Linked DNA regions of Homo sapiens: region 2 is linked to region 1. The links come from fine-mapping of genetic effects on gene expression. Tissue or cell type: whole blood. Region 1 holds a variant in brackets; the other region holds the start of a gene. All regions are shown on one strand. Distances are between the middles of the regions.

What was found. PIP is the estimated chance that this variant, and not a neighbour inherited with it, causes the effect.
Region 2: EIF4E starts here. The variant in region 1 is fine-mapped to the expression of EIF4E in whole blood (INTERVAL, PIP above 0.99).

Annotation. Positions count from the first base shown.
Region 1 is chr4:98,877,853-98,884,103 of GRCh38, reverse strand. EIF4E (eukaryotic translation initiation factor 4E) reads left to right here. Exons shown (of 7, transcript NM_001968.5): 7 at 2,962-4,828. The coding sequence ends at 3,076. Among named protein-coding and RNA genes, the nearest start is that of EIF4E, 48 kb to the left of the region's middle. The variant G/TG (reference allele first, on the strand shown) is at 3,269.
Region 2 is chr4:98,925,139-98,932,408 of GRCh38, reverse strand. It overlaps EIF4E (eukaryotic translation initiation factor 4E), which reads left to right and starts at 3,276. Exons shown (of 7, transcript NM_001968.5): 1 at 3,276-3,314. The coding sequence starts at 3,297. RefSeq lists an enhancer at 1,683-2,882.

The DNA.
Region 1 (6,251 bases):
AGGGTTTTATTAAACCTTTTTTTGTAAATTTTATTCTTTGCAAAAGTGGCTTTTTTTTTTTTTTTGAGACAGGGTCTCACTGTGTTATTCAGGCAAGAGTGCAGTGGTGCAGTCATGGCTCACTTCAGCCTCAACCTCCTGGGCTCAGGTGATACTCCTACCTCAGCCACCCAATTAGCTGCAACTACAGGTGTGTATGACCACACCTGGCTATTTTCTTGTATTTTTTGTAGAGAAGAGGTTTTGCCATGTTGCCCAGACTGGTCATGAACTCCTGGACTTGATCAAGCCACCTCAGCCTTTCAAAGTGCTGAGATTACAGGCGTGAGCCACCATGCTAAACCAGCTGACATTTTTTTTCTAAGATTTCTTTTTACCTCAATTATATTAGTAATATTTGACACCAGGCGCAGTGGCTCACACCTGTAATCGCAGCACTTTGGGAGGCTGAGGCAGGTGGATCACAAGGTCAGGAGATTGAGACCATCCTGGCCAACACGGTGAAACCCCGTCTCTACTAAAAATACAAAAAAAACAATTAGCTGGGCGTGGTGGCGGGCGCCTGTAGTTCCAGCTACTTGGGAGACTGAGGCAGGAGAATGGCATGAACCCGGGAGGCGGAGCTTGCAGTGAGCCAAGATTGGGCCACTGCGCTCCAGCCTGGGAGACAGAGCGAGACTGTCTCACAAAAAAAAAAAAAAAAAAAAAAATTTGACTTACAATTTTATGTTAAAATTAAGTGCTGGTCAGTCAGTGGTCAAAATGTTTGGTTTGCCCCTTTGTGATTTTTCAAATATTATTAATTTTTCTTTTTAAAATTAATTAATTTTTTGAGACAGAGTCACACTCTGTTGCCCAGGCTGGGGTGCAGTAGCGCGATGTCAGCTCACTGCAACCTCCACCTCTTGGGTTCAAGTGATTCTCTTGCCTCAGCCTCCTGAATAGCTGGGACCACAGGCCTGAACCACTGCAGTAGTTTTTGTAGAGACAGGGTTTCGCCATGTTGGCCAGGCTGGTGTCAAACTCCTAGCCTCAAGTCATCCACCTGCCTCAGCCTCCCAAAGTGCTGGGATTTCAGGCGTGATCCATTGCTCTCAGCCATGTAAATTTTTATGTGAACATAATTTATTTCTGGATCAAAAGGTATAGGGATTTTCTACATTTCATGCTATATGGGGTTCCATAAGAGAAAAGAGTTGATTTGTCATCATATTTTAATGTTTCTTCCAGCATCAAAACCTAATTTTGGAGGATTTACTTTTTTTTTTTTTAAATGAGTTAAATTAAGAATTTTTTTCCTACGGAAGTTTTGTATTTTTGTCAATATTAAATGTTTTTGAGTGTATATTAAGACTTCAGATTTTCAAACGAAGATTTTCTTTTTTAACCTTCCAATTTGCATGACTCAATGGTCTTGCTTTTTGACATTTTTAATAATTAAGTATAATTGAAAGGAATGCATTGCATTATAATGCAAATTTGATAATTAACACTTTAGTTACCATAAAATTACTTTTTAATACCTTATTTTAGGGGGAAGGTAGTAAATCTTCTGGAAGGTATAAAAAAAACCTATCCTAGTATCATGTTGGAGGATTTAACTCCATTAATATCTTTATTCCTTTATTTTTATTTGATTTTTGCTTATTTTTGAATTTTTACTATTTTTTTCCTAAAGATTCTTTTTTCTTTTTTTTTTTTTTTTTTGAGACGGAGTCTTGCTCTGTCACCCAGGCTGGAGTGCAGTGGCACAGTCTCACTCAAGCTCACTGCAAGCTCTGCCTCCCAGGTTCACGCCATTCTCCTGCCTCAGCCTCCCGAGTTGCTGGGACTACAGGCACCTGCCACCACACCCGGCTAATTTTTTGTATTTTTAGTAGAGGCGGGGTTTCACCATGTTAGCCAGGATGGTCTCGATCTCCTGACCTCGTGATCCGCCCGCCTCGGCCTCCCAAAGTGCTGGGATTACAGGCGTGAGCCACCGCGCCCAGCCAAAGATTCAAATTTTTAAGATGACCTATGAAGCTCTCTGTGATCTTCCTCTGAAACCTTGTCAGCTTTATCTCATGTTCACTTTACTTACAAGCCATAGCCACACAGCCTAATTTTTATTTCTCAGCTTTCAAATGTGCTCATTCTCTTAACATTATCCTTTTGACCTCGTGATATTTAAAGGGGAAGACTTCTCTAATGTTGTAGATGAGATTAGAATCTCCTTGTTATACAGTATCACAGCCCTTATGTTTACTCTTTGGCACTCATGACAAGTGCCATTTTATTCTTGCAATAGAGTCATGTCTTACTTGAAAATTAGGTTGTAAAGTTAGTATGTAAAGCAGAAATTACATTCTCCCTCGAAGTGTTTCATTCACTCCCTCGAAGTGTTTAATCTCCCTCAAAGTGTTTAGTTTTTGTTTGTGCAGTCTTATAACAGGTATGGTTAATATAATTTGTGTAGTAATATACAATATTTGCTAGGGTTCAGACGTGAAATGTAACATTTTAGATCAAAGAATGAAACATGTTTGTTTTACAGATTTCTGTTTTTAAGTATGCATGTGATACAGGTCTGTCATGTATTTGTGATTATTTGATTATGTTTTCTCTACTAGACTATAAATGCAGTCAGCTCAGGGACTGTCCTTACTTTGTTCACTGTTGATTTAGTAATAATTATAGTATCATAATAAATAACAATATAATAATATAGTAATGCTCCTGTAATTTAGTAATAACATACCTGACTCGCTCTCAAATATTTTAAAAGTAATTAACCAAGAATATCGCAAAAATGAAGAGTAAATTGTGCTGAAAGGAAAAGGGTGTATAATTAATTTCCTATTTTATTCTCAAGTCTATGTTTTTTAATATAAAGACTAATAACCCTAAATTTTTAAATGTATTTCTTGTGAGTAAAAGTTAATGACTACTTTTTTCTTCTTCTTTTTTTTTTTCTTCTAGGAGGGTATACAAGGAAAGGTTAGGACTTCCTCCAAAGATAGTGATTGGTTATCAGTCCCACGCAGACACAGCTACTAAGAGCGGCTCCACCACTAAAAATAGGTTTGTTGTTTAAGAAGACACCTTCTGAGTATTCTCATAGGAGACTGCGTCAAGCAATCGAGATTTGGGAGCTGAACCAAAGCCTCTTCAAAAAGCAGAGTGGACTGCATTTAAATTTGATTTCCATCTTAATGTTACTCAGATATAAGAGAAGTCTCATTCGCCTTTGTCTTGTACTTCTGTGTTCATTTTTTTTTTTTTTTTT[G/TG]GCTAGAGTTTCCACTATCCCAATCAAAGAATTACAGTACACATCCCCAGAATCCATAAATGTGTTCCTGGCCCACTCTGTAATAGTTCAGTAGAATTACCATTAATTACATACAGATTTTACCTATCCACAATAGTCAGAAAACAACTTGGCATTTCTATACTTTACAGGAAAAAAAATTCTGTTGTTCCATTTTATGCAGAAGCATATTTTGCTGGTTTGAAAGATTATGATGCATACAGTTTTCTAGCAATTTTCTTTGTTTCTTTTTACAGCATTGTCTTTGCTGTACTCTTGCTGATGGCTGCTAGATTTTAATTTATTTGTTTCCCTACTTGATAATATTAGTGATTCTGATTTCAGTTTTTCATTTGTTTTGCTTTTGTTTTTTTCCTCATGTAACATTGGTGAAGGATCCAGGAATATGACACAAAGGTGGAATAAACATTAATTTTGTGCATTCTTTGGTAATTTTTTTTGTTTTTTGTAACTACAAAGCTTTGCTACAAATTTATGCATTTCATTCAAATCAGTGATCTATGTTTGTGTGATTTCCTAAACATAATTGTGGATTATAAAAAATGTAACATCATAATTACATTCCTAACTAGAATTAGTATGTCTGTTTTTGTATCTTTATGCTGTATTTTAACACTTTGTATTACTTAGGTTATTTTGCTTTGGTTAAAAATGGCTCAAGTAGAAAAGCAGTCCCATTCATATTAAGACAGTGTACAAAACTGTAAATAAAATGTGTACAGTGAATTGTCTTTTAGACAACTAGATTTGTCCTTTTATTTCTCCATCTTTATAGAAGGAATTTGTACTTCTTATTGCAAGGCAGTCTCTATATTATGTCTTCTTTTGTGGTGTCTTCCATGTGAACAGCATAAGTTTGGAGCACTAGTTTGATTATTATGTTTATTACAATTTTTAATAAATTGAATAGGTAGTATCATATATATGGAATTAAATTGATGTGGCTATCTTTGTTTTTTTATAAAGTAAGGCACAGTCATTCAGTCTTAGGTAAATAATGTACTCTCTTAATATGTTAATACTCATGAGAATTGGGATCTGATGCATCACCATTTGATTGGTAGCAACAGTGGTTGTAAAACTTGGTTGCTGAATTGAGTTGTTTCTATGTTAAGTGTCAAAATGATAGTGTAGGGAAAGTACAGGTGGTGGGGACATATGCATTAAGAATCTTGTTAGTGTTGCAATCTAAATAGAATGGAATAAACAGGTGTTAAGACATATTTATAGTGGTAAATTGTTGTAGTATGGTATTCTGTAAACTTGAAAACTTGATCTACTCTTTGTAGGTATCATTTGAAAGCAAACTTGAAAATGTTTTGTACATAGTACATACTTGTATAGTCCTGTGAGATGAAGTATGGCTATCAGACCAAAGGATAAGCCAAACTGTAGGTAGCAGAATGGAAATTATTATTTTGAGAGGAAAATTTGTCTTTGAATGGTGATTATGACTTAATCATTTTAAAACTGATAAACTTGACAAAAACCCTGTATGAAATAAACATGAAATTAATAGCACTGATTTCATTGTAAAATTTTAAAGCAGTTTAAAGGGTACCACAGGTTATCACAGTACTCTCAATGCCACAAACACCTCTTGTTCAGTATTCTAGAAATACTGAATCAGAATTCTGTGTTTATTATAATCTCAGCATACTGTACATAATATCTGCTAGTTAAACTTGGGTAATTGGTTAAGGTGACTTACTGTCTATGTCAATATGTATAGTTTTGAGTACTTCAAGAGTTTACTTAAAAGTGATGATGTTACTGGTATGTTGGCAGTGGGTGGGACTGAAGTAGTGTATCTATTATAAATTGATCTATTTTCTTAATTCTAAGATGAAGTCCAATTTTAAGCATCAGCTTTTAGGTGCAAAGGAGGAATTAACACATTAAATGTATACAGTTCTAAATTTTTGAAATAACTGATGTGTAGCATTTGATTATTGGTATTACCATTTTAGAATCATGATGTTATTTTAAACCTTTTTCCTGGGGACAAGAAAGGATAATAAATTACGCTGAATCACTTTTGGCAGTTGCCACTTAAATAGTACAGTGACTTGCAACTTTTATAACTTTATCAGCATCTTCTCTAAATACAAAATTAGGCTATATGTTATTTTCCAACTTACTGTTTTCTCTCTGTTTAGCAGGATATTATAAATAGATTAAATAGATATATTTTCTTTTTTTTTTTTTTTTTTTGAGACGGAGTCTCGCTTTGTCTCCCAGGCTGGAGTGCAGTGGCGTGATCTCCCAGTAGCTGGGACTACAAGCACCTGCCACCATGCCCGGCTAATTTTTTTTGTATTTTTAGTAGAGACGGGGTTTCACTGTGTTAGCCAAGATGGTCTCAATCTCCTGACTTTGTGATCTGCCTGCTTCTGCCTCCCAAAGTGCTGGGATTACAGGTGTGAGCCACCGTACCCAGCCCAAATAGATGTATTTTCATAATAGAGAATTGAAATAGGCTTTAATGGGTGAATAGCAGTTTATTGTAGGCATGTGACATTTCATTTAATGAATTTAAAGTTTATTATCCCAATTCTACAGAAGGATTTAATGCATACTATGCAATTAAATAATTATAACACTACATAGTAATAATTTATGTGCCAGGCAGTAGTTCAGTCACTTTACATGCTTATTAACCTGCAGAATAATCTTTTGAGATGTAGGTGCTGTTACTGAGAATTTAACTTTTGCTTGTAAATTGCAAAGGGTGGATTTGAATTCTGGAAATTTGGTTCCAGAGACAATAATTACATAACACTTTCTCCATAGGGTACAGCCTGTCTAATAGGCTATAGTAAATCACCTCAGCTTGTTATAGGTCGGGCATGCAAACATTTCTCCATTTTACTCCCTTTGGTAATGAATCTAGTAATAGATGGAAATTTTCCCTAGATTCACTGTGTTAGTCAGTTGGGGAAGT
Region 2 (7,270 bases), 48 kb before region 1:
AATGGTCATAAAACACACACAACAAAGTATATACAAAAATGGAGATTTTCCTGAAACTCTGTGCTTGAAAATTATAAAGAAAAATTGTTGAAAACTATGTAAAAAATGGAAAGAAACTAAACCATAAAGAATAGAGCATCCATAAGTATTGTAAAAGTATGAGTCTTGGTTGACAAGAGGGAGTTTTTTTTTTTTTTTTTTTTTTGAGACTGAGGGAGTGCAGTGGCGCGATGTCCGCTCACTGCAAGCTCCACCTCCTGGGTTCACTCCTTTCTCCTGCCTCAGCCTGCCGCGTAGCTGGGACTACAGGCGCCTGCCACCATGCCCAGCTAATTTTTGTATTTTTAGTAGAGACGGGGTTTCACCGTGTTAGCCAGGATGGTCTCGATCTCCTGACCTCGTGATCCGCCCGTCTTGGCCTCCCAAAGTGCTGGGATTACAGGCATGAGCCACCGTGCCCGGCCCGAGTTTTTTGATTAACAGAAAATTTAATAAAAATGGAAACTGTTGTTTAAAAAAAGTTTTAAGAACATCACTGGCTTTCAGTCCTATAGGTATTTTCTTGCCAATCTCATTGATTTTTTGCTGTTATATAACAGCTTCATGAAAATAGGACATCTGGCCAGGAATGGTGGCTCATGCCTGCAATCTCAGCACTTTGGGAGGCCCAGGTAGGGGGACCGCTTGAGCCCAGGAGTTTGAGACCAGCCTGGGGAACATAGCTAGACGCTCCTGTCTCTGCAAAATATAAAAAAATTAGCTAGGCATGGTGGCCCATGCCTGTAGTCCTAGCTACTTGGGAAGCTAAGGTGGGAGGACCCCTTGAACCCAGAAGGTCAAGGCTGCAGTGAGCCATAATCATGCCACTGCACTCCAGCCTGGGTAACAGAGCAACACCCTGAAAAGACAAAAAGAAAGGAAGGAAGGAAGGAAGGAAGGAAGGAAGGAAGGAAGAGAGAGAGAGAGAGAGAATGGGAGGGGAGGGGAGGGAGGGGAGGGGAGGACAGGGGAGGGGAGGGGAAGAGAAGGGAAGGGAAGGGAGGGGAAGGGTAGGGAAGGGAGAGGAAGGGTGGGGAAGGGTGGGGAAGGGGAAAATAGGACATCTATGCTGTCTTTTTCTCTTCAAAGAAGGTAACCTGACACCACTTCTAACCAGCAGAAAATAACAACGCGGTCAACAGAATTATTTTGGATAGTCTAAGTAACAGTAGATAGTCTCTGTAAGTAGAAATCCACTTATCCGTTTATTATCATTTTTTTTTTTTTTTTGGAAATGGAGTCTCACTGTGTCGCCCAGACTGGAGTGCAGTGGCGGGATCTTGGCTCACTGCAACCTCCACCTCCCAGGTTCAAGTGATTCTCCTGCCTCAGCCTCCTGAGTAGCTGAGACTACAGGCAGGTGCCACTATGCCTGGCTAATTTTTGTATTTTTAGTAGAGACAGGGTTTCACCATGTTGGTCAGGCTGGTCTCGAACTCCTGACCTCAGGTGATCCGCCCGCCTTGGCCTCCCAAAGGGCTGTGATTACAGGCGTGGGCCACTGCGCCTGGCCTGTTAATTCTATCTACTTTAAAACCTAGTAGAGCTAAGCCCACTAGACAAAAGCTTTCATTAATCACTTCTGATATTCAGGTAAACCAAAACATATGAACAGGCAATGGCTTTGAGTTCTCATACAGCCTCAATTATGTGTTAGTCAACTCAAGCATCCATTATGTACTCAATAATAGGTATGACACAGCTCTGGACCTCATTAACACTATAAGCAGACAGGCACAGGCAGCCTGCATACACTCCTTTTCCTGGTGTCAACATTATTTAAAAGCATGGGAAATAGTAATGAGACAGTGTCTTCTTCATTAGAACCTTAGGAGTCTACTAGATTTCTTCATCTCTATTTGTTGTTATTAGTAGCCAAACTGTGCAAAAAACACGGTCTTGAGAAATGACAGCACAGTATCTTAGAGGGAAAGGAAATGTAGGATGCCAGTGTGGGGACAAATTTCTGATTGCCAGTGATTGTTGTGAGCATAACAATAATTTCATGAACATTAAAGCCTCTATTGAGGGCAGCTGCAGTTGTAAAGGAAAAAAAATGGTCCTGAACATTTAAAACTACACTGGTGTACATCATAATCAAACAAAGTAAACAGAAAAAAATTTAAACTTTGCTAAAAAAAAAAAGCAGAAGCACTTGATCTTTAGGAAGGCACGCAGTTGCTTATTATGAATCATTTCTAGAGTCCGATGCATTTTCAAAGCCGGTTACAGTCATTACGAAGCACACCCTTGTGAGGTAAGTGTATCATCACCTTTGGTTCATAAATAAAAAAGCTGAGACGCCGAGCGATTAAGTCACTCGCCTAAGGAGAATGAGTCAACGTCAAGAGTCATAGTTGACCCGGCCTAAAGACTCCAGACCATCAGTCCAGGGCTTAGTCAGCGGGGCCCGGAGTGGCTTCCCTGGCTGGCATCTGGACTTAGGCTATTTCCGTGCACGTAAAAGCGGAATATTGGAACGGTTGCACAGAACTTCCAAATAATTTTTACCGCCACGCAAGATTTAGCCCTGAGGTCTTAATCTCAGGATTTGGGACAGTAAAAGCTGTCGTCCCTCCCCCTCGTCCAGCCGGTGGCAAGCGGGTACTGCGGGCGGTTCCGTCCGTCCCCTTTCGCAGAAATGGCAACGAATGACCACCAGCATTAGCTGAGCCAGGGGACGTGGGAGGGTTGATTGCCTAAACGACTCTGCATCGCCGCCTCTTTTTGAAACTAAGAGAAAATGGTGGGAGATCAAAAGAAAACTAAATAAACACACAGGCAACTTGTCCTGGGACCTCAACTAAGCAAATGAAGCCTTATTGTGTGTGCTGAGCCTGCAGTTCCCAACCTTCCGGGGAAGATGGGAGGACAGGGCGACAAAGGGCACAGTAGGCTTGCCTGGCAGTAAGTGTGACCGCAGCTATCCAGGCGGAAGAGCAGAGGACTGAAACCACCCTCCAGCAAGCGAGTGTCCGCCGCGTTGAGAACCGCGCACCCTACCCATCGGCCACGTGACCAGTCCTTTTTAAAAAAAATTTCTTTACCTTAAAAAAAAAAAAAAAAAAAAGGTGGGGGAGAGACTCCACTTCCCAGAAGCCTCTCGTTACTCACGCAGCCGCAGTCTTGCGCAGGTGCCGCCAGGGCCAAACGGACATATCCGTCACGTGGCCAGAAGCTGGCCAATCCGGTTTGAATCTCATTTTTTTCCTCTTACCCCCCCTTCTGGAGCGGTTGTGCGATCAGATCGATCTAAGATGGCGACTGTCGAACCGGTGAGTATTGCCTTTGGCCCCCACCCCCACGGGTCCCCGCGCTCCGTCTTCCTTCTGACTGGGGGACTCCGCGGGACGGCGTTCCCGGCGCGCACTGTACCCCTTGCCGCCCCTTCCCCTTCATGTTGGACCTGACCTCCCGCGGACAAGTGGGGACGTCCCGGAGGATGGCCGAGGCGGCGTGTAGCGCACACTTTCTGGTGGGGGCCCGAGAACTGGGGGAGCGGTGTGGGGGAGGGGCGGCGTGGCGCCTCCTGCGGAACCGCGAGGTGTCTACAGGGTGGAGGGTAGCTGGGGTTCTGGGCTGGGTATGCGAGGATGGTGTCTTCATGATAGGAAGGCGCAGGGCCGGCTCCCAGCGAGTACTGGGATCCGCAGGCAGGGTGGGCGGCGAGCCGGCCTGGAGTGAGATGGAGGAGGGAGCCCTGGAGCAGCCTTTCCCTCCCTGCAGAACCCCAGCTCCGGGGCTCGGGTGCGGGGCGCGCGCACGTCTTCCTTAGACCGGTGGACTGGGGAGCTGGTGGGCGAGTGTTGCCGGAGGGTGGGTTAGGCGGGAGTGGTGCCGCGGCACGCGCGGAGGAGCTTCGACCTCGCTTAGGGGAGTTGAGAGGGGCGAGCGTCTGTTAATCCAGCGCGCCGGAGAGTTGCCGGTGTTTGCGCCAGGGGAAGCGAGAAAGGTCTGGGGTGGGAAGGAACACTCGTGTGTCACGGTGAAGCTCTCCAAGTAGAATGAGGGATGGTGGTGGTGAGAAGGGGTATCACATTGTCCTCGCCCCTCCATGCTTGGGACTGGGCTGTCATGGAGGAGGGAAGGGGGAGGAGCGAGGCCTACAGATCGCTGTAGCCGGTCGGCTTGCCGGCCGGACCTGCTGCATTTCACACGCGCCCGTCTTCCATTCATTCATCCTTTCCGCGTAGTGCGCACGCCTCAGAGAATGCGAATGGGTCTCAATCCCTCTGTTCTTCCGAGTCTTTATCTCCTGGAAGATTTCTGAGACGCAGTTTATTGGAAATAGAAACTTTTAAATTTACTTTTCCATTTGACTTTTTTTTTCTCTTTATCTATGCTACAGACTTTCATTTCAATTTAGGCACCATTTTAAACTTAACTGAAGCAAGCTGGTCCCAGGGTAGGTTTGTAGTTAATCTTTAAGCAGAGGGTATATTTTTCATAATTTGGGTTTGCCAGGACTGGCTCACTGAAACTTCTGGGCCCTGTTGCCTTTTTAGAAACGACACAGCTAAGTGAAGATATCTTGTGTGCATAATGGGGTTTATTAGCAATCAGAAAACCTTTCACACTCTGGAACCAGCTCTAGACCTTGGTTGCCAGATACTTTTGTGTATCTTTTCATGGTAGCTTGTGGTTTTGCTAATGGTTTACCAGTTTGCTTTGACTTTTAAAGACTTTTTTTTTTTTTTTTTTTTTTTTTTTTTTTTGAGATGGAGTCTTGCTTTGTCGCCCAGGCTGGAGTGCAGTGGCGTGATCTCGGCTCACTGCAACCTCCGCCTCCGGGTTCAAGCGATTCTCCTGCTTCAGCCTCTTGAGTAGCTGGGATTACAGGTGCGCACAACCGTGCCTGGCTAATTTTTGTATTTTTAGTAGAGACGGGGTTCCACCATGTTGGCCAGGCTGGTCTGAAACTCCTGACCTCAAGTGATCCTCCCGCCTCAGCCTCCCAAAGTGCTGGGATTACAGGCGTGAGCCACAGCACCCGGCACTTTTAAAGACTTTTATAAAACTATTTCAAAAACTCTTATAGACTACACAAAGGCTTATTTTTCATTGCGTTGGTGTAAACTATCCTTACCTTGTCAAAATTCAAGGCAGCTTCTCTGCTTGCTTACTTGTTTTTTTATTGGCACCAGTTTTCATTTATGTTCCTGGGAATTAAATTGACTGAAAAACTCATAAGTTGTTGCTACAGTTAACTGACTTTAGGACATTAATATTACATAACACTAATGAAGAATAAGTATGTAAAATATACATTTTAAACCCCTTGACAGGTTCTGATGTCCACTTTTGTCTAGATCTGTTCCTACCCCACTACACTAGTGTCAGTAAAAAGCATTACATCTGGTAATAGGGGCAAGGCTACGAGACTGTAAACTATAAAACAATAAGGAGTTCTGTGAGGTTTCTGTCACATTTAGGTCCCTTGAGTTTTGCAGAGTTTATGCAGTTTTGTTTCAGCAGCACAGAGCGGAACTGCAAAGTGATGAAGGACTATATTTTGAGTTAGTAAATATTAATAGCTCCTGATATATCCAGGGTGTTGTACCAAGTGTTCTTTAGGATACAAAGTTATACAAGATGTGAGTCTTGTTGAATGTAAACCCTTAAGGAACTTAATTCCTAGGGATGTGGTTAGTGATACAGTATTTGTTCTGGTACAGACTTTGGGAGATTTGGATGTTATGTTTAAATTTGGGGAGTAGGGGAACCTAAAAACAAAGTGTGTGAAGCTGGAAACTAAAGTATTTTGAGAATATATGTAAAATAGTATCGAAGTGTTTAGTTTTAGTGAGAAATGAATTTTTTTTTTTTCGATACTGACTTTCACTCTTGTTGCCCAGGCTGGAGTGCAATGGCGCGATCTTGGCTCACCGCAACCTCCGCCTCCTGGGTTCAATCGATTCTCCTGCCTCAGCCTTCCGAGTAGCTGGGATTACAGGCATGTGCCACCACGCCCGGCTAATTTTGTACTTTTAGTAGAGATGGGGTTTCTCCATGTTGGTCAGGCTGGTCTTCAACTCCCGACCTCAGGTGATCCGCCCGTCTTGGCCTCCCAAAGTGGTGGGATTACAGGCATGAGCCACCGCGCCTGGCCTGAAAATTTTTAGTACTTTTAATATACCCTTGTGCACAGGCTAGTTATGTGGAATTATTTTTGACAGTTTTAAATAGTTGGATTTTGTGTGTAGGGGTGCAGGATCTTGCTCTGTTGCTGGGGCTGGAGTGCAGTGGCGCGATCATAGCTCACTGCAGCCTCAAACTCCTGGGCTCAAGAGATGCTTCCATCTCAGCCTCTGGTGTAGCAAGCACTACAGGAGCAGGCCACCACGCCCGGATAATTTTTAAACTTTTTGTAGAGATGGAATCTCGCGATGGTTACCCAGGCTGGTCTCAAACTCCTGGACTCAAGTGGTCCTCCCACCTTGGCCTCTCAATATGTTGGGTTACAGGCGTGAGCCACCGAGCCTCGCCTGGATTTTTTTTTGAAGCAACTGATTAGAATTGGATTGTACTTGAGATACCCCTGCTGAAGGCTGCAAAAATCATGTTTTTTCTTACTTCAGCTAGTTTGTGAGCTTCCATAATGGTTTTCTGCTGTGCATAATCATAAACACTTAAAAAGAGCCATGGGCTTTTCCTGCTTATCCCATCATGCATAGGTATCTGGATGATTTTTGTCTATGGACATTACATAAAATATCATTTTCAGTTTGATATTATTGTGTGGTTTTCTCTTTGTATGAGTTGAGTTACATGAAGATGTGGCCCACAAATATTAAATTTGTTGAGAAGCTTGAAAGGGAAAATTAAGGGAAACATTTTACCTCTTAACGGATAATTTGGCAAAAATTTGAACGTTAGGGCAAACGGTACTCTGATGTTATTCTATCGGCATTTGAATTGTGGCTGGGTCAAAATTAGGTTTAATATTAGTCTGTGAAAATGGCAAGGCCATCTTACCTCCAGTAGGTCGTGTTTCTTTGTAGCTTTATCTTCATTCTACATCGTTCATTATTAGAATTAAAAAAATTTTTTTTTGACTTGTAGTTCCTTTTGAGGTAAGAGATTAATTTTGATTTCTTTAGCTTAACTGAAAGTGTATAATTTTACTTGTTTTTACATTGTAGCTCTTGAATTTTTTGAAACCACGCTAATTTCATAAGTGAATCAACTTGGACAATCAGCTAATTTAATGCTTCCTTTTTTATACTTTGGA